3 separate regions of the Homo sapiens genome follow, and all the other regions are linked to region 3. The links come from fine-mapping of genetic effects on gene expression. A gene starts in region 3. Each other region holds a variant in brackets. All regions are shown on one strand. Distances are from middle to middle. Region 1 overlaps PGS1 (phosphatidylglycerophosphate synthase 1). Region 2 overlaps DNAH17 (dynein axonemal heavy chain 17). Region 3 holds the start of PGS1 (phosphatidylglycerophosphate synthase 1).

Region 1 (6,218 bases), 45 kb after region 3:
GCTGCCATTAAAGGTGGGGTCTTTGCTGAGTGACCTTTTGTGTCCTGGATCCCTCAGGGCCTGGACTGCACTCCGGGTGGGGTCAGGCTCCCGAGGCCCCTGCTCTCTGGTTCTGGATGTTGTGGGTAGTTCTGTTGCTTTGGATGGCTGGGCCTTTGGATGGTGGCTTGTGGGGAAGGGACGGTGAGGAGTCAAAGATGAGCCAGGACCCATGTGGCCGGCACATGCGCTAGTGCCGGCATCTCATGTGTGCAGCGTGGGCTCCCTTAGTGCCTGGCACCTTAGTGCTCTGCTAAGTCTCATTGTTTAAAAATGTGTAGTTTATCTGCAGCTTTTCCTAGTTATTTTAATTACTTTTCATTTTATTTGAATAGTGTGTGCAAATGTAGAGAGTAAAACAATACTGCGGCCATTTCCTGCCCTCCCTTCCCCCAGGCAGCCACTCTTGGCTTGTTTCTTCTGATGTGCACACGTGTCCGTATTTCTAAATAACGTGCATATCCTGCTGTCTTCCCCCAAAATGTGTACTTAACCAAAACAGCACCAGTGTCACTCCTGAAACAAAAATTACCAAGAATGTCTTAGTATCATCAAATACCTAAATGGTGTTCACAATTCCACTTGCCTTAAAATTAATTTTTTCGATTATTTGACTTGAAGTCCAATTAAGGACTACACCTTGTGATTGTTTTTTCCCTAGCAATTTATTTTTTGAAGAATGAACTTTATTTTTATTGGATCTACTTAAAACATTTTTGTGTCACCTAGTAGCAGGGGATTTTGAATACATGTCATGTGTGTTTATAAAGCCAGCTCTCCATATCCCCCAGTGTCTCCAGGAGCTGCTTTTGTGACCTCACTGCCTGATCTCTTTATCATCTTCAGGTGCTTGACCCTTGCACAGAGAGAAGCTTCCTGGGCTACAGGGCATGGCAGCCTGTCCTTTCGGGGAGTGAGATTAGATTTAGTCCCTGCACTTTGCCTCTCTAGAAGCAGCTTCTCGCCTTTCCCTCCCGAGGGCTGGCAGGAGTCACTGTCACCCTTCATGGGGTCTGAAAGGTTGCATAGGCTCACCTGGTCTTAGACAAGGACAGTTGCAGCTTCCGCACCAGGCAGACCTGCAGTTTGAGTGGCTGGGGATAGGTGGAGCGGCGGCCTGGCCACAGTGCCCTGGACAGCAGCACATCACATCAGTTAACACTGTTTGCCTTCCAACTAGTTATTACGGTGTCCTGTGGGACAATTAGACTGGAGGAGCCAAAGGAATGTGCAGGGGCACTGGGTTTCTGTTTGGAGAGAGGCTCTCGGTAAACAGAGTTCGCATTCCTCCAGATTCTGTGGGACCAGAGTAAATATCATTATGCCACAGCCAGGCTTAAGCAATCTATCTGCAGTGCCGTTCCCGCAGCGCACACTGCTCCCTCTGTCTCTGCTGATGACCTTCGAGGCTGTCCTAGGCAGGTTCTCCCTGAGGAGCTCCCCACACCAAGCCTCCCTAACTCTGCAAAGCAGCCGGAGCAACAGAGAGCAGCGGGCGGCGGGCGGCGGCCGCCGCAGTCCTCCCGGCTTTCTAGGTGCGCGGGGCTGTCGTGTTCCAGTCCCTGTGTTCCCCGTCGCTGGAGTGCAGCTTAAGTGCGAATCATTTCTTGGAAAGTTTAGAGATAATTTTGTCAACTACCCACAATATGTATGTGTGGACTAGATTACTTTCTTATTTCAGGATCTAAAGGCAAAATGGAAAAACGTCACATTTTGTGGTTATTACCAGGGACTGAAGTGAGTTGCCCGGTGGCCCCTGGTGGCTTTAGCTCCCCTGGTCACCTGAAGGGCTGCAGTGACCCCTCCTGGCCAGCAGAGGTATTGGCCCAGCCAGGCTGGGGGAGGCTGAAACTGCTTCCCTTCTCTGCAGCCACAAAGGGCTGGATTCCTTGGGCGCCAGGAGGGGAGGATTTTTCTTTTCCCTCCGATAGCCCTACTGGGCGCTAAGATTGTTGTGAATCATTACCCTCAGAATTTGGACTTTCTAGATGCTTCTTAACCCATGATTTAGGTGAGTAAACTTGGAAAAATGTTTTTGCAAAACTTGATGATCAAGCTGAACGTAGAACGATATTCCTAATGGGTGTGTTTGCCTTTTTTCCCCCTTTTGAGACAGGGTCTCACTCTGTCACCCAGGCTGGAGTGAGTGGCATGATCATGCCTCGCTGCGTACTTGACCTCATGGGCTCAAGCGACCCTCCTGCCTCAGCCTCCTGAGTAGCTGGGACCACAGGCACATACAACATTCCCAGCTAATTTTTTGTATTTTTGATTGATAGAGATGGTTTTGCCACGTTGCCCAGGCTGGTCTTAAACTCCTGGGCTCAAGTAAGATTGCCGTCCTGGGATTAGAGGCGTGAGCTGCTGCAGCGGCCTGCTTTTCTTTGAAGCCTGAGAAATGTTGAGGGCCGGGCACAGTGGTTGACACCTGTAATCCTGGCGCTTTGGGAGGCCGAGGTTGGTGAATCACCTGAGGTTAGAAGTTTGAGACCAGCCTGGCCAACATGGTGAAACCCCATCTCTACTAAAAATAAAAAAATTAGCTGCGTGTGGTGGTGGGTGCCTGTAACCCCAGCTACTTGGGAGGTTGAGGCAGGAGAATCGCTTGAGCCCAGGAGGTGGAGGTTGCAACGTGAGCCGAGATTGCGTCATTGCACTCCAGCCTGGGCGACAAGAGTGAAACTCTCACTCTCCCTCGAAAAAAAAAAAAAATGTTGATCCTGTCTTGGTCCCCCTGGGATCCGTCTTTTCTGACGTTTGCCGCTGTCTCCCCTCATCCCCCAGGTTGCTAGTTAATTCTCTCCCCTCGTGCCTGCACCCTGCTGCCCTAGCTAGCCTGGCCACCTCACTGCCGTGTCCTGCATCAGCCCAGCCACAGAGTCCTACAGGTCCGGGGCTTGCTTGTGGGAACGGCTTGTTCTTCTAGACTCTGGGGGCGGGGGCTTGGGTGTGTTTCCTTACTTGTAAAAGGTCCTGTTGTTTTTGGGAGCAGGGAGTAATGGCGGATGAGACGCTGTGTGGAGGCGGCAGCTCCTGGTATGGGGTAACGCCCTGTCCCCTCATTGGCAGGTGGTTTGCATGAAGCATCAGGCCAGAGGGTGTGAGTGCCAAGCCCTCACCCCACATGCTGCTCCTGTTAAAAGCAAACTCCACTGACCCCCCCGGGAAGTCAGGATTTGGGATTTACTTCCTGGAATGCTTGCCTCTGGCTGCTGGGAATTGGGGCCTTTCCCCAAAGCCTGAACCAGGCCTCACAGTGGCCATCAGGCACAGAATGGATGGGCACAGCTGAGTGGCTCCACTGGCTTTAATCTGCCCCACCTCTTCCACACCAACCTCCACCCTCTGGTTCCGATGTGCTTGGTTACAAAGCACCTGATTATTTAAGAGAACGAAAAACCACCACCAGTTCCTGTAAAGAATAAGTCACAGGTGCACAGGTGAAGGGCTGAGTTGTGGTCCAGCCCCAGGGAGTGTGGGCTGTGAGGCAGGAGCGAGCTAAACCTGTAGGAGCAGCGCCACGGCTGCCAGGATCCACTTCGCTGCCTTCTCTTTGGTCTTCAAGTTAAAGGTCCAGACATAGGTGGGGCCGCGGATGCGTGTTTTGTACACGGGACACTCATAGATGTTCTTGGTCTCCATGCGGTCCACAGGAATGGCCTTGATGAAGATGACAGGCATGGCCGGGGTCAGCTCTTTCAGCCGCGCTTCAGCGATGACTCCAGTCTGGGTGTCCCAGCGAGCCCCTGCAGGGACAGTATGGCTGAGGGTCAGGTGTGCTGCCAGTAAGTGAGGGAGGGGCTGGCAGGAAGGGTGGGGTCCTCACACTCCCCGCCCTCTGCAGAGCTGGGCTCTACCCCAAAAGGCTTCAGGCCAGCTGCCACGGCTGGAAGCAGAGG[C/A]CTTCGTAGGTGATGGCCTGCATGTTGTAACTACCCCGTCCCGCTGGGCTCAAGGAACAGCTCAGCTAAAGCCCTCGGGTTCCATCCGTTTAAATCTGTGGCATTTTCAGAGCCTCATCTGTCAGCCTTAATGTCAGTGGCAGGAAGTCATAACTCCAGCTAAAAATTACAGAGTAAAGTTCCCTGATTCTTAATGTGTAATGTCTGCCCTATGTGTACATACACAATATAATTATACATCTGTGCATATAAATATTGCCTTTAACCAGACTGCTATTATTTCTACTCGCCCTATTTAATGGTGTTTTTATTTCCTGTCTGAAATCTCAAAATAAACAAACATGGAGAGCTTATCTTTGGTTGTGTGGGAAATGGGGTGCCTGAGCCGTTGCTGGCCCAACCCTGCCACCCCACAGGTAATGGGGTGACGTCAGCTGTTGAAGGGGACAGGTATGTGGTGGTGGCATTGCTGCTCAACTCAGAGGCGGGCTGAGAAGATGGCCGGCCTCGGTGTCCTGGCTGACCTCTTCTGTGTAGCAGGACAGGGGTGATGTGGGGGCGGACTTCTAACAGGTGCCCCAGCCTCTTTTCCCTTGAACCCTGTGTTCCAGGAGTGGCAGCAGCTGGGGAGTGGGTGAGACTGGGCCAGCCAGCATGACCTGGAGTCTCAGTGCAGCCACAAAACGCACTTCTGCCCTGGGCTGACTGCTCCGTGGCAGGGAAAGCCTGGGCTTTTCAGCGCTTTTCATCACGTCGGAGCTGCTCTCTCACAAGCTCTGCTGTTTTCATTAAAGCAGAGGCCAGGTGACTGGGGTGTTTTTGGTCTCCTCCAGACCCTGCACATTCCCTGAATCCTCTCAACCCTCTCTAGGGTCAGCGTGGCTCTGACCTGCAGGCTGATGCCCCCTGAGAGCACCTCTCTCCTGCCTGTCCCCACAGCTCTTGAACAGCCTGTCTTTGCCAAGAGCTAGTTTTATCTTGTCTTGGCAAGTAGCACTGGCTCTGGAAGCTTCTGCAGACAGACAAGAGCCCTCCTTACCTTCCATGAAGAGTCCGTACACGTAGGAGCCCTCTCGCGGAGGAGCGGTCATGTCCTCTCGGTTTTTCTTGGTCACCTCGACAGACAGACACATCTTGTCCAGGGGCCACTCGTTCTTCCTGGCCATGGACTGCATGATGGCCGTGAGGAACGACTGGGGGTTGAAGAAGCCGGCCAGCCACACGGTGGTGGGCAGGGCAAAGTCTGTCGTCCAGGCCTCGAGTTCCTGCAAGGACACACGAGCCGCTAGGAGGAGAGGACATAGAATGACATGGGAACGACCGGGCCTTGGCCGTTCTGAGCAGGGGTCACGCCAGAACCTTCCACGGGCCACTCAGCGAGCTAGAAGTGCTGGACAGAGTAGGGGCCATGGAGCCCAGCCACCTACCATGACGCAACTTTGGTGTCTGCTTTTTTTTTTTTTTTTTTTTTTTTTTTGAGATGAAGTATCGCTCTGTCACCCAGGCTGGAGTGCAGTGGTGCAATCTTGGCTCAACGCAACCTCCGCCTCCCGGGTTCAAGCAATTCTCCTGCCTCAGCTTCCAGAGTAGCTGGGATTACAGGTGCAGGCCACCATGCCCAGCTTATTTTTGTATTTTTAGAGATGGGGTTTCGCCATGTTGGCCAGGCTGGTCTCGAACTCCTGGCTTCAAGTGATCTGCCTGCCTTGGTCTCCCAAAGTGCTGGGATTACAGGTGTGAACCACCGTGTCCAGCTGCTGTTTGCTCCATTTTAAACAAGGGAACAGGTAGAGAAGGGTCAGGAAGAAAATGGCTTCCTGTTTGTGGATAATTTAGGAGCCCAAAGAGGCTCTTGCCTTCATTGCCTCGCTCCTTATAGAGGACGGCTTACCCTTTGAGGGTCGCTTGAGGAGGAGCTGATGGAAGCTGCTCTGCGGCCTGGCTTGTTTTCCTCCTTTGGGAGGAAATGGCTGCACTGTCAGGGTGTGGGAGGGGCATGGGCTAGGCCCTTCTGGCCCTGATCTGACAGAGGACAGGCCCCCAGGAGCCTCCTGGCCATGCTCCTGCAGGCTCTAGGGTGTGGGGTGTGCCGAGCTCTGGGCACTCGGTCCCCGAGTCTTAGGAAGCCTCTCAGAGAAAACGGCACTTACCCTGATGCGGAGCAGCAGGTCTGCGTACCAGGCCGCCAGGCCCATCATGGAGGGGTAGGCCCGGGCCACCCACGTATCAGGCACGGTGTCATAGAAGAGAGCCGTGGACAGATCTTCCACGTCGGTCGTG
Region 2 (5,000 bases), 72 kb after region 3:
TTAATGTCATGATCAAGGGAGTGGGTTTGTTACACAAGGAGTTTGGCCCGTTTTGTGCTCTCTCTCGCCCTCTAGCCTTCCACCATGGGATGACACAGCAAGAAGGCCCTTGCCAGATGCCAGCACTTTCATATGGAACTTCCCAGACCCCAGGACCATGAGAAATAAATTTCTATTGTTTATAGATTACTCAGCCTTGGGTATTCTGTTATAGCCGCACAAAACAAATTAAGACAGGCTGTTTAATCAATTTCAGAGAATGCAGATCTTTAAATATTTTAGCAGGGCTGTATAAACAGGAGGAATATTTGTTTATTCATACACTTATTTCTTAAGAAACATCAGTCACCCCACAGTGGGCTAAGCACTAATGCAGGACTATTTACTCAGCACAACTTACATGTAAAATGAATTTCCTTGTGAAATTCTCCTTAAAACACCACCCCTTCACTAGCTCCCATTGGAATACTGTGCCAGCTTCCCAAATATCAACTAGGAGAGCCCCAGGCCTGTTCCACGTCAGGCATCTCAGACTTTATAATCACCTGGGTATATTGCTAAAATGCGGGTTTGAAATCACCAGGTTTGGGTGGGGGCCCAACAATCTGCCTTTCCACAAAGCTCCCAGGGGTCAGTGACACCGCTGGTCCACGGACCACACTAGGAACAGTGAGGCTAGACATTACCTGAAACGTAACTTGTGCCAGGAAAATGAGTTTGTCCCTCTCGAAGAGTCCCCGGGCCGTGTACATGTAGACGGAGTAGGTGATCTCGTCCGTCAGGTTGATCACCCGCTGCTTCACCTCGTTGGCAGGGGTGGTCCTCTGGATGGCTTTCTCAAACACCACGTTGAAGGCCTGGGGATCCGCCACCGAGAGCCATGGAGGCGTGCAGAGATGGAGCCCTTCACCACTCCCCGCCACCACTCCCTGCCACCTGTGGTGGCCTCCAGTTTGTTTTGTTTCTTTGAGACAGAGTCTTGCTCTGTCGCCCAGGCTGGAGTGCAGTGGCGTGATCTTGGCTCACTGCACCCTCTGCAGTGAGGGAGGTTGCAGTGTTCAAGCGATTCTCCTGCCTCAGCCTCCCAAGGCGCACACCACCACACCTGGCTAATTTTTTTTTATTTTTAGTACAGACAGGGTTTCACCATGTTGGTCAGGCTGGTCTTGAACTCCTGACCTCAGGTGATCCACCCGCCTCGGCCCCCCATAGTGCTGAGATGACAGGCATGAGCCACCATGCCAGGCCATCCAGTTTGTTTTGATTGGGTTGTGAGTGCCTGGAGGCACCAGGGGAAGAGCAGGGAGGAGGGAGCAGCTCATACCCTCTCCTGGGGAGAATGGGTGTAGGACTGATGGGGGCCCCTGGCTCCCCCTCTTCCAGCTCCATCTGCAGGCTGGACCAGGTCTGCCCTCTGAGGGTGGCCCTGGCACTGCCCGATGGCTGTGTGGGCAACAGGCCTGGCTGTGGAGCCCAGATGCAGCCCCACCTTGAGGGAGGCACCCAGCCCCAGCTGCAGGGCGCACCTTGAGGGAGAACTGGTAGACGGGGTTGATTTTGTTGAGATCGTTCAGTATGAAGTAGAGCAGAGATGCCCTCTCCGCAGCCGGGCGGTAGTTCTCTCTCGCTTCGTTGATTTTAACTTCTGTGATTTTTGCCTCCACCACCTCGACACAAACAAAAGGGGTGTGAATGACACAGCAGATGGGCAGTGCCATGAGCAGGTGGGCTCATTCCCAGCCACCAGCCTCGCTCCCTGGGAAGCCACCCAAGGGCTCTCAGCAGCAGCTGGGTGCAGGATGGGAGCCCAGACCCCTTCTCCTGCCCTGGGCCCACTCGGGCACGTATGACCGAAGCTGCTTTTCTCCTTTCTCATGGTAGGGAGGCGCCGATCGCCCGTGGCCCAGCCTCCCAAGCCCTGGCTGCCAGGGCACGTCACCGAGGCAGCTCTGACCTTCTCCTCGATCTCGCTGGCTGTGTGCTTGGTGGTCTCCAGATTCTCCACCAAGGCCGTGTCTCCCAGAAAGTTCCCCGACGCAGCCGACAGACGGGCCAGGAGCGAATCTTCCAGCTCTTTCAGAACAATCTTAAATTCGTTTTGAGACTTGGTGAGGTTTGCCTGCAAGGGGAGGTGCAGGAGTCACTGCATTGCCTGGCTCTGTCCACCGGGCACCCGGGCCTCCCTCAGGTGGCCATGTAGCTGAGCCAAGGCCCAGGCTTTGAGCGGGAGGAACGAGCTCAGGTCCTGGAAGGGGCTGCAGAAGCAGAGCCCCTGGAACCTCAGAGAGGCCCTGGCCCTGCTCCCAGCCTTGAGGCTTCCTGTCACGGAGACTGTAGG[G/A]GGCAGAACGGGGACAGGCGGGCCTGGGCCTCCTGAGCCCATGCAAGTGGCTATAACAGCCAGAAATGTGGCAGGTGCAAGGGCTGGCAGCCAGGCCATTCTTGCAGGGCAGCGCTTTGGAGCTTAGAGCCCCCGAGGACCGCTGTGACTCATGTTCTTTAAGCAAAGAGGTCATGTGACTTAGAATTAAATTTGGGAGCAGGAAGAGGGGACAGCTGGGGAAGGAAATGAGCCATCCTGTCGTATGAGAAGCTGTGATGCCGTGGGACACACTGAGGCACCTTCAGAGAGAAGCAACGACACACACTGGACTGGCAGCCCTGGTCGGGGACCCTCACAGTGACCTGGCCCCCTCTGTGTGGGACGGCACCTCCTCCCGTGTGACCAAACTTCAGGCCATTACCTTCAGCTGTTCCAGATCTGGGCGCTCTTTGGCCACCACAGCGGCCAAGAGTTGGTCCTCGAGTCCATCCCTGGTGACCAGGAAGTTGATGAGGGTGCACTGAGCCTGCATCTCTGGCTTGTAGTGTGGGTTGAAGTACTTGGTGTGTAGGATCAGGCGGAACTTGGGGTGGTACTCCACCTCCTTGTCACCGATCTTAATGTACCTGGCGGTTGGTGGAGGAAAGGGTTAGTGGGCCTCCCAGTGACCAGGGGAGAGGAACACAAGTACAGACCACCTTTCACCCCAGCCCCAGGCCAGGCCGCCACCTTGAACCCTCCCTTCTGGTCCCTGGAAGAGCACTGCACCTCTCCTTGTCTGTTCCTCCTCCCTGGCCTGTGACGTGGGCCCTTCTGGGAGATGCACCTGCTCTTTCCTTGGGTGATCAGGCTCATCTTTGCAGCAGGGTTTACACCCCTCTGGCGATACTCTGTCCTCCCCTGGGAGCCCTGACCGAAACCTTCTGCTTGGCCTCCACCCAGACTCATTTACAACATTCGTCCATTCTGGAAGCTCCCAGGACTGCAACCCTGGGTCTGCTCATCCACTGTGGGGGGCGCTTCTCTCCGGCTCTACACCCTGCTGTCCCCTCTTTGTAGCTGGGCTCACTTTGAGGGGCCTCTGGCTAGCTTCACCCCTCAGCACTCACACCAGGCCCCTCCCAGAGTCTAGGACCTCTGCATATTGATTTGCCACCTCCTGGGTTCTGGGTTTCTGCATGCATCTCTGCATTTAAAGGTGGCTCCTGTCAGCTCTGACATTTACATTTTTAAAGTAGATTTAATTTTTTAAAATTGTAAAATGAATAATGCAAGCTCCACGCATCAGCTGATGAGTGGACAAACACAATGCGCCCGGCCACACGTGGAAAATGATTCTGCCATCAAGAGGAATGAAGGACTGACACATGCGACCACGTGCATGACCCCAAAAAACATGCTAAGTAAAGGCCGGGCGCGGTGGCTCCCGCCTGTAATCCCAGCACTTGGGGAGGCCGAGGCAGGTGGATCACCTGAGGTCAGGAGTTCGAGATCATCCTGGCCAACATGGGGAAACCCCGTCTCTACTAAAAATACAAAAATTAGCTGGGCACGTTGGTGTGTTCCTGTAATCCCAGCTACTTGGGAGGCTGAGGCAGGAGAATCACTTGAACCCAGGAGGCAGAGGCTGCAGTGAGCAGAGATCGTACCACTGGACTCCAGCCTGGACGACAGAGCGAGACTCCATCTCAAAAAACAAACAAAAAATGCTGAGTAAAAAGAGCCAGACACAAAAAGACACATGTTGCTTGATTCTCTTCAGAGGAAATGTCCAGAATAGGCAAATCCACAGACACAGAGAGCAGAGTAGTGGATGTTAGGGCTCAGGAGGGAGGGGAATGAAGAAGAGTGGGTACAGGGCTTCCTTTCGGGGTGGTGAAAATGTGCAACTGGACAGATGTGTTTGTACAACATCGTGAGTGTACCAAATGCTCAATTGTGTATTTTAATGTGGTTAATTTTACGTTATGTGAATTTTTAAAGGTAATGCAGTCCCAAGATTTGCAAAATGCCTAAGAACAGAATGAAGACAGACATCACCTTCAAGCCTCCCCATCTGGAGGCCATCACTGATAAAATGTTGGCGGAGATATTCCTAATTGGGAAGTGGCCCCTCTTTCCAGTCTTTCCTCAGGAGCTGGGGGTTCCTTCCCACCAGCAGGCACTTTGTCAAAGCCCTTGCTGCTTACCAGGGAAGCAAAGGAAATTCCGGGCGTTTTCTCTACATGCACACGCCCAGGCCTCGGGCCTGAAGATGTTTACCTGGCTCAAGCCACGGAGGCGGAAACAACTCACTTTCCCTTTTTAATCGTGTTCCTGCCCAGTAGAGGGTCCAGCACGGGGTCCACGGTTTCGCCGATGTTCTCAATGAGCAAGGTGTCCCCTTCCGAGATGGCCTGCTCGATGACATCCAGGTAGCTGCGGGCACAACACGGAAGCTGGTTCATGGCAGAGGGCCTCGTGATGGAACGGTGCGCACGCTCCGACCAGCAGCCCCTGCCCTCTGAGCGAGACAGCGCCAAGCGAGGGGTGACCTAGGAGCCCACAACTTGTTCCCAACAGCTCGCCCTTTCCTGAAAGGAGCCGAGGGGCTTCTTTGTAAACTGCCCCCGTGCTCTTATGGGAGTGGAGATGAAAATGGAAACAGTTTTGCTTTTTGAGACAGGGTCTCATTCTCTGG
Region 3 (6,406 bases):
TTGCAACCTCAAAATGTATGTGTCCCCAGCAAAGTCGTGGTTGCCTCACTCTGGTGATAGCTCTGTCTGTTTTAAACTAGCCATGAAGGCCAGAGGCTCTCGATGTGTGGTTTCAGAAGGGACTGGGTCATTCCTTGATGTTATCCTTAGGGTAAATACTTATTAGTGTGACTTACCATGCTATCAATATTGCTGTCTGTTGCTAGCATTTCTTTAAGGTTGGGAATTCCCAGTGAGCCTGTACCATGGCTGTTTGTCTCAGTACCTCGCACAGCAAAGCACCCATGCAGAAAAGCTGCCAGCTCCTTCTAGGATGATAACCAGGCTCCCATAGCCCATGTGGCGCTCACCGCTGAGCATGACGGTGTAGCCATACAGCAAGTGTTTACTCTGCAACAACCGTGGGCCAGGAACAGTGCAAAAGTGGAACCATGCAATGGATGGCCTCATTCTAGTTACTGGAAGTTAGGAAATTTGATGATTCACCATTTCTAACTTGGAAGGGTTGAATCAAATTCCATGTAGTATTAGTAAAGCTATCTAAACGCAAAAGAAAACTTTAAGCCAATCTGAAATACTTGTTGATTGTCAACAATTTGGAAACTCCTTAATGGCACCAAATAACCAACATTAACATTTGGGGGTATTTACTTTCAGTCTTTCTGTGTACATACACGCATTTCCTCTTTCTTCCTCTCCTTTAATGAAATGAGATGGTCTCTACGCTACTCCTTGGTAATTTGGCTTTTACACTTAATGTCATTAAATATTCTTCCAGAACATGTTATTTTTATGATTGTGTGGTCTTCCAACATACCGATGTATCATTATTTAACCAACCCCCCTACCCTGAAGATTTGCTTCCACACTTCCGATATCATGAACAAGGCTGAGATGAACATTCTTGTGGGAATGTGTAGTTGATTTCCCTGCATAATCTGTGGAAGTGGACTTTGGAGTGTTTTTTTCAGTGTGTCCATATCTTTTTTTTTTGAGACTGAGTTTCGCTCTTGTTGCCCAGGCTGGAGTGCAATGGCGCGATCTCGACTCACTGCAACCTCCGCCTCCCGGGTTCAAGCGATTCTCCTGCCTCAGCCTTCCTGAGTAGCTAGGATTACAGGCATGTGCCACCATGCCCGTCTAATTTTGTATTTTTAGTAGAGACAGGGTTTCTCCATGTTGGTGAGGCTGGTCTCGAACTCCCGACCTCAGATGATCCGCCCGCCTCGGCCTCCCAAAGTGCTGGGATTACAGGTGTGAGCCACTGCGCCCGGCCCACGTGTCCATATCATTTTAACCTCACAACACGGCAGACTATGATTATGTCCTACAGCTTTTCCAGTTTCCAGGTCCCAGCCTATGTGGGTCAGCCAGGGAGCTGCATATTACAGATCAGAGATCACCTCTCCTGCCTTTCAGAATGCCACAAAGTTTTCCATTTTAAAATTAGCTGCAAAAAGTGTTCTTGGGCCGGGCGCGGTGGCTCACGCCTGTAATCCCAGCACTTTGGAAGGCCGAGTTGGGTGGATCACTTGAGGTCAGGAGTTTGAGACCAGCCTGGCCAACACGGTGAAACCCTGTCTCTACTAAAAATACAAAAATTAGCCAGGCGTGGTGGCGCACGCCTGTAATCCCAGCTATTCCGGAGGCTGAGACAGGAAAATCTCTTGATCCCAGGAGGCAGAGGTTGCAGTGAGCCAAGATTGCGCCATTGCACTCCAGCCTGGGTGACAAGAGTGAAACCCTGCCTCAAAAAAAAAAAAAAAAAAAAAGTGTTCTTGGTGTATGAGGATGTGCTCCGTCAGCTTTTTGGGCATAGAACTGTGTGTTGCCAGGGGCCAGTGATATCTGTGTACTTGGGCATATCAGGAGGGTGGAAGACTGTTCATCTCACACAGATTTGCTTAGGCTGTTCTGTGCCATGGAGCTGCAGCCTCTGGGGCTAACAGGGTGAAAAATGATTCCTCTCTCAGTCTGGTGGGGATTTTCCGTGGTTCTGTGCACCTTAGTGAGTCAGCGTTAACCAGGTTACAAGACTTTGTACAAGAACAGACTTTGTTCAAGTTTAACACCTTAGGGGTGTTGTACAAGTCTAAAGAACACCCTATCAATTAGAGCCTCAAACAGTAATTCCCTCACTTATCAGTGAGAAGTCCTTTTTTTTTTTTTTTTTTTTTTTTTTTGACGGAGTTTTGCTCTTGTTGCCCAGGCTGGAGTACAGTGGTTCGATCTTGGCTCACTGCAACCTCCACCTCCTGGGTTCAAGCGATTATCCTGCCTCAGCCTCCTGAGTAGTTTGGGATTACAGGCATGGGCCACTGCGCCCAGCTAATTTTTTGCATTTTTAGTAGAGACGGGGTTTCATCAGGTTGGCCAGGCTGGTCTCGAACTCCTGACTTCAGGTGATCCACCCGCCTCTGCCTCCCAGAGTGCAGGGATTACAGGCGTGAGCCACTGCGCCGGCCGAGGAGTCAATCTTGACAGCCAGTGGTCAGGCTCGGTGGCTCATGTCTGTAATGGCAACACTTTGGGAGGCTGAGGCTGGATGATCTCTTGAGCCCAGGAGCTCGAGACCGGCCTGGGCAACGTAGTGAGACCCCCATCTCGACAAAAAAGTAAAGAATTAGCCGGGCATGGTGGCACACGCACTTTGGTGGTCCCAGCACTTTGGGAGTGGTCCCAGCACTTTGAGAGGATCCCCTGAGGCCGGGAGGTCGAGGCTGCAATGCGCCAAGATCGCGCCACTGCACTCCAGCCTGGGACACAGACCGAGACTCTGTCTCAAAACAAACAAACAAAAGCTTTTTTGACAGCTGGTGAGTTGGAGCCAAGCGTGACGGTGCTAGAGCCCCTGCGCCGCATCCTTTCCTCCGCGACCTGTGACGAGTGACTGCAGGAATGCAGGCCACCTGGCGCCCTTACGGATTTAACGGGCCGGCTTCCGACCCCCTCCTGCGGCGCGACCACTGTTCCTCGCCTGTGTCCCCCAGAGGGGAAACTGAGGCTTGGGGGCGGTGCAGCGCCGCCCTCCCCGAGCCAGGGGTTCCGCGCCTGCGCGCCTGAGCCGTGTCCGCGCTCGCCTTTGTCAATAAAGTTCGCGCCCGCCGGGAGCGGAAGCGGAAGCGGCGAGTCTCCATGGCGGTGGCGGCGGCAGCTGCGGCGGGACCCGTGTTCTGGAGGCGACTGCTGGGCCTCCTGCCTGGCCGCCCAGGGCTGGCCGCGCTCCTGGGACGCCTGTCCGACCGCCTCGGCAGGAACCGGGACCGCCAGCGCAGGAGGTGAGAGGGGCGGCCGGGATGAGAGTGCAGCCCTCGCGGCTGCAGCCCGGCCCCCCGGCGCTCAAACTCCCGGCCCCAGCGTCCTGGGCATCCGCAGCGAGTCCCTCCCCGGTTTCCGGGCCCATTTCTGCCTCCCGGGGCTCGGCGCCTGACCTATGTGCTTCTTCACTGGCCTTCTTGAGGGAGGGTGGGCGGCTCGTGCTCCATTATCGGCCGGGTCCAGCCGGCGGGCCTCCTGCGCAGCCCGGCCAGTCCTTGCTCCCCGTCTACACCGTGCTTGTTGGCGAGCCCCGGCCACCGTGCACTTACACGTTAAAAGAGGGACTGTGTGTGCGTTCAGGGAGCTTCGGTCAAGCTCCAGAGGCTGTTTATATCATGGTTTCGGCCCCAGGATGTGAGTGTCGGAGAGTTCAGAGGGGTCTTTTCCTTAGGTAAGCCTGGCTGTGAGTGAATCACCGTTGCTGGGATTTTGTGTATAGAGCGTTTCTCACATCCTGCCAGAAAAAGCTGTGAAGCAATCCTTAGTAACACTCAGGCATGGGAAGAGGAGCCACTCGAAACACTTTTTACACATTTCAAAGGGCCTGTGTTCTGGAAAAGTACTGAAGTTATGTAAATGATGAAGTAGGCTTTGGAGCAATTTGTTCAGGCAGTGGTCTTTTAAAATAAACATTTGCCAAGAACATGCTGACCTGAGGCTTGCTAATATTAAAAAAAAGGGGATAAATAATTCTTGGCCGGGTGTGGTGGCTCACGCCTGTAATTCCAGCACTTTGGGAGGCCGAGGCAGGTGGATCACCTGAGGTCAGGAGTTTAAGACCAGCCTGACCAACATGGTGAAACCGTCTCTACTAAAAATACAAAATTAGCTGGGCATGGTGGTGCATGGCTGTAATCCCAGCTACTTGGGAGGCTGACCCTGAGGCAGGAGAATCGCTTGAACCCAGGAGGTGGAGTTTGCAGTGAGCCAAGATTGCCTCATTGCACTCCAGCCTAGGCAACAAGAGCAAAACTCTGTTTCAAAAAAAAAAAATTCTCTTGTGTGCAAATAGTTTTCTTTTCTTTTCTTTTTTTTTTGAGACGGAGTTTCACTCGTTGCCCAGACTGGAGTGCAATGGCGCAATCTTGGCTCACCTCAATCTCCACCTTCCAGGTTCAAGCGATTCTCCTGCCTCAGCCTCCCGAGTAGCTGGGATTACAGACATAAGCCACCACACCCGGCTAATTTTGTATTTTTAGTAGAGACAGGGTTTTTCCATGTTGGTCAGGCTGGTCTCTAACTCCCAGCCTCAGTTGATCCACCTGCCTCGGCCTCCCAAAGTGCTGGGATTACAGGCGTGAGCCACCGTGCCCGGCTGCAAATAGGTTTCTTAATTGAGTCTTACACTTGATCTTTAAAAAAAAAAATCTTAGAACTGCTTCCTTTAGTTGAGGTTGCATTGTGTTAGATTTTCTATCTGTACGTGTACTCCTCGGGTGAGATTTGACCTCCTGGGGTCAGACATCTAGTACAGAGATCTGGGGTCCAGTCATGTGTACTGATTCTAGGTACAGAAAAGAGCTTGCTTCATGGTGATCTATGGTGGAAGATTTTCATCGAAAACTCAAGTTTGATTTAGGGGAATTTTTAGGTGATAGAATCAGGGCAGGATGGCGCTCTTGGAAACCTGCTAGGTTTCACGTTGGTGAACCCAGCAGGACTGGGGCTGTAAAAGAAATGGCCTCTGCATTTTTTGCATTTTCATTTTTTCAGTGTTTAACAAAAGACCTGCTCATCTCTGGGTGACGAAGTCAGATGACTTCTACGTCCTGGCATCAAACCACTGAGATTTGGTTTACAGTTTCAAAAAAATGTTCTACCCTTGAAGACAAGATTTAGGTGACTTTGTCATTTCCCTCTATATGTTTAAACTATATGAAAAACACTTCATTATAAATCATTGTTCAACATTGGAATTGATTACTAAAGGATGTTGGGGCAGTTGACACAAATATTTTAAAAAAGAAATCTCTCATGAGTGTGCTTTTTTTCTTTTTCTTTTTCTTTTTTTTTTTGAGACAGAGTCTTGTTCTGTCACTCAGGCTGGAGTGCAGTGGTCTGATCTCGGCTCAGTGCAACCTCTACCTCGTGGGTTCAAGTGATTCTCCTGCCTCAGCCTCCAGAGTAGCTGGGTCTACAGACACATGCCACCACGTCCGGCTAATTTTTGTATCTTTAGTAGAGACAGGGTTTCACCATGTTGGCCAGGCTGGCCTCGATCTCCTGACCTTGTAACCTGCCCACCTCGGCCTCCCACAGTGCTGGGATTACAGGTGTGAGCCACTGCGCCCAGCCACTTTTTTGTTTTTTGGTGGTGGGAGGGGCAGTGTGGCAGTGGAGATAGTCTAAATTGACTTTCTAATCTCTTTTTTTTGTAAATTGTGTGAGTGGATGCAGTTTGTGTGCCTTCATCCTTCATTAAGCTGAGAGAGATGATTGTTTCTCTGGGACAACAGTTCAACCAGCAACTCAGTTTCTTGGGCATTAAGACAGAAGTTTTTGCTTTGTAATCCTCGGAAATAATGCCTATGGTAGGACTGAGGATAAATGCTTTGACCGGTATTGAGTGGTAGTGTAGGTTTCTGAGCCTTTCTTTGCCTTATTCGGTTTGCAGTTCTTTTCTGATTCGTTGTGGCCTTGGTGTTCGAGTTATTCATGTTTGTTGTGGCTGCTTACCCTTTATTAGCTGCTGACTTTGCTTTCTTCTCCATTATTCAGTTGCACCTCCCAATTTCTCATTCCCCGAATGATGTGGTTTCTTGTAACTCGCTGATCATTGATTCATTGATAATAGTTCTGTGCAGTCATGAGCTTGAATTATTTTAGGTTTTAGCTTGTCGATCTGAGTCAGCTGTTGGAGGGCCAGTGAACCCTCGTGAGGGGACGTTCCTTTTACTGCCGCGGTTTCCTTTCAGGCATAGAGACAGCCAGAGAGACAGAGAACTCTACTTAAAATTACTTCTGTTAATGATTTAGAAGCACTGTCATTTCCTCTTAAGCTAGCATCTGACTCATTATCATTAGGAACTGCTGGATCCGTTAATTTATTCATCATGTGTGTATTGAGCACTGCTGTGCTGTGCTAGGT

Evidence for each region.
Region 1: its variant is fine-mapped to the expression of PGS1 in whole blood (TOPMed, PIP above 0.99).
Region 2: its variant is fine-mapped to the expression of PGS1 in gastroesophageal junction (GTEx, PIP above 0.99).

Annotation. Positions count from the first base shown.
Region 1 is chr17:78,420,369-78,426,586 of GRCh38, forward strand. It overlaps PGS1 (phosphatidylglycerophosphate synthase 1), which reads left to right. Exons shown (of 10, transcript NM_024419.5): 10 at 3,693-4,291. DNAH17 (dynein axonemal heavy chain 17) reads right to left here. Exons shown (of 81, transcript NM_173628.4): 79 at 6,089-6,218; 80 at 4,978-5,203; 81 at 3,329-3,785. The coding sequence ends at 3,538. Among named protein-coding and RNA genes, the nearest start is that of PGS1, 45 kb to the left of the region's middle. RefSeq lists enhancers at 2,182-2,761, 5,555-6,055, 6,056-6,218. The variant C/A (reference allele first, on the strand shown) is at 3,939.
Region 2 is chr17:78,448,728-78,453,727 of GRCh38, forward strand. It overlaps DNAH17 (dynein axonemal heavy chain 17), which reads right to left. Exons shown (of 81, transcript NM_173628.4): 65 at 4,616-4,738; 66 at 2,742-2,946; 67 at 1,955-2,119; 68 at 1,527-1,667; 69 at 687-857. Among named protein-coding and RNA genes, the nearest start is that of DNAH17-AS1, 34 kb to the right of the region's middle. RefSeq lists a silencer at 1,380-1,601 and an enhancer at 1,731-2,309. The variant G/A (reference allele first, on the strand shown) is at 2,339.
Region 3 is chr17:78,375,531-78,381,936 of GRCh38, forward strand. PGS1 (phosphatidylglycerophosphate synthase 1) reads left to right here and starts at 3,119. Exons shown (of 10, transcript NM_024419.5): 1 at 3,119-3,278. The coding sequence starts at 3,136. RefSeq lists an enhancer at 3,008-3,969 and a silencer at 3,165-3,404.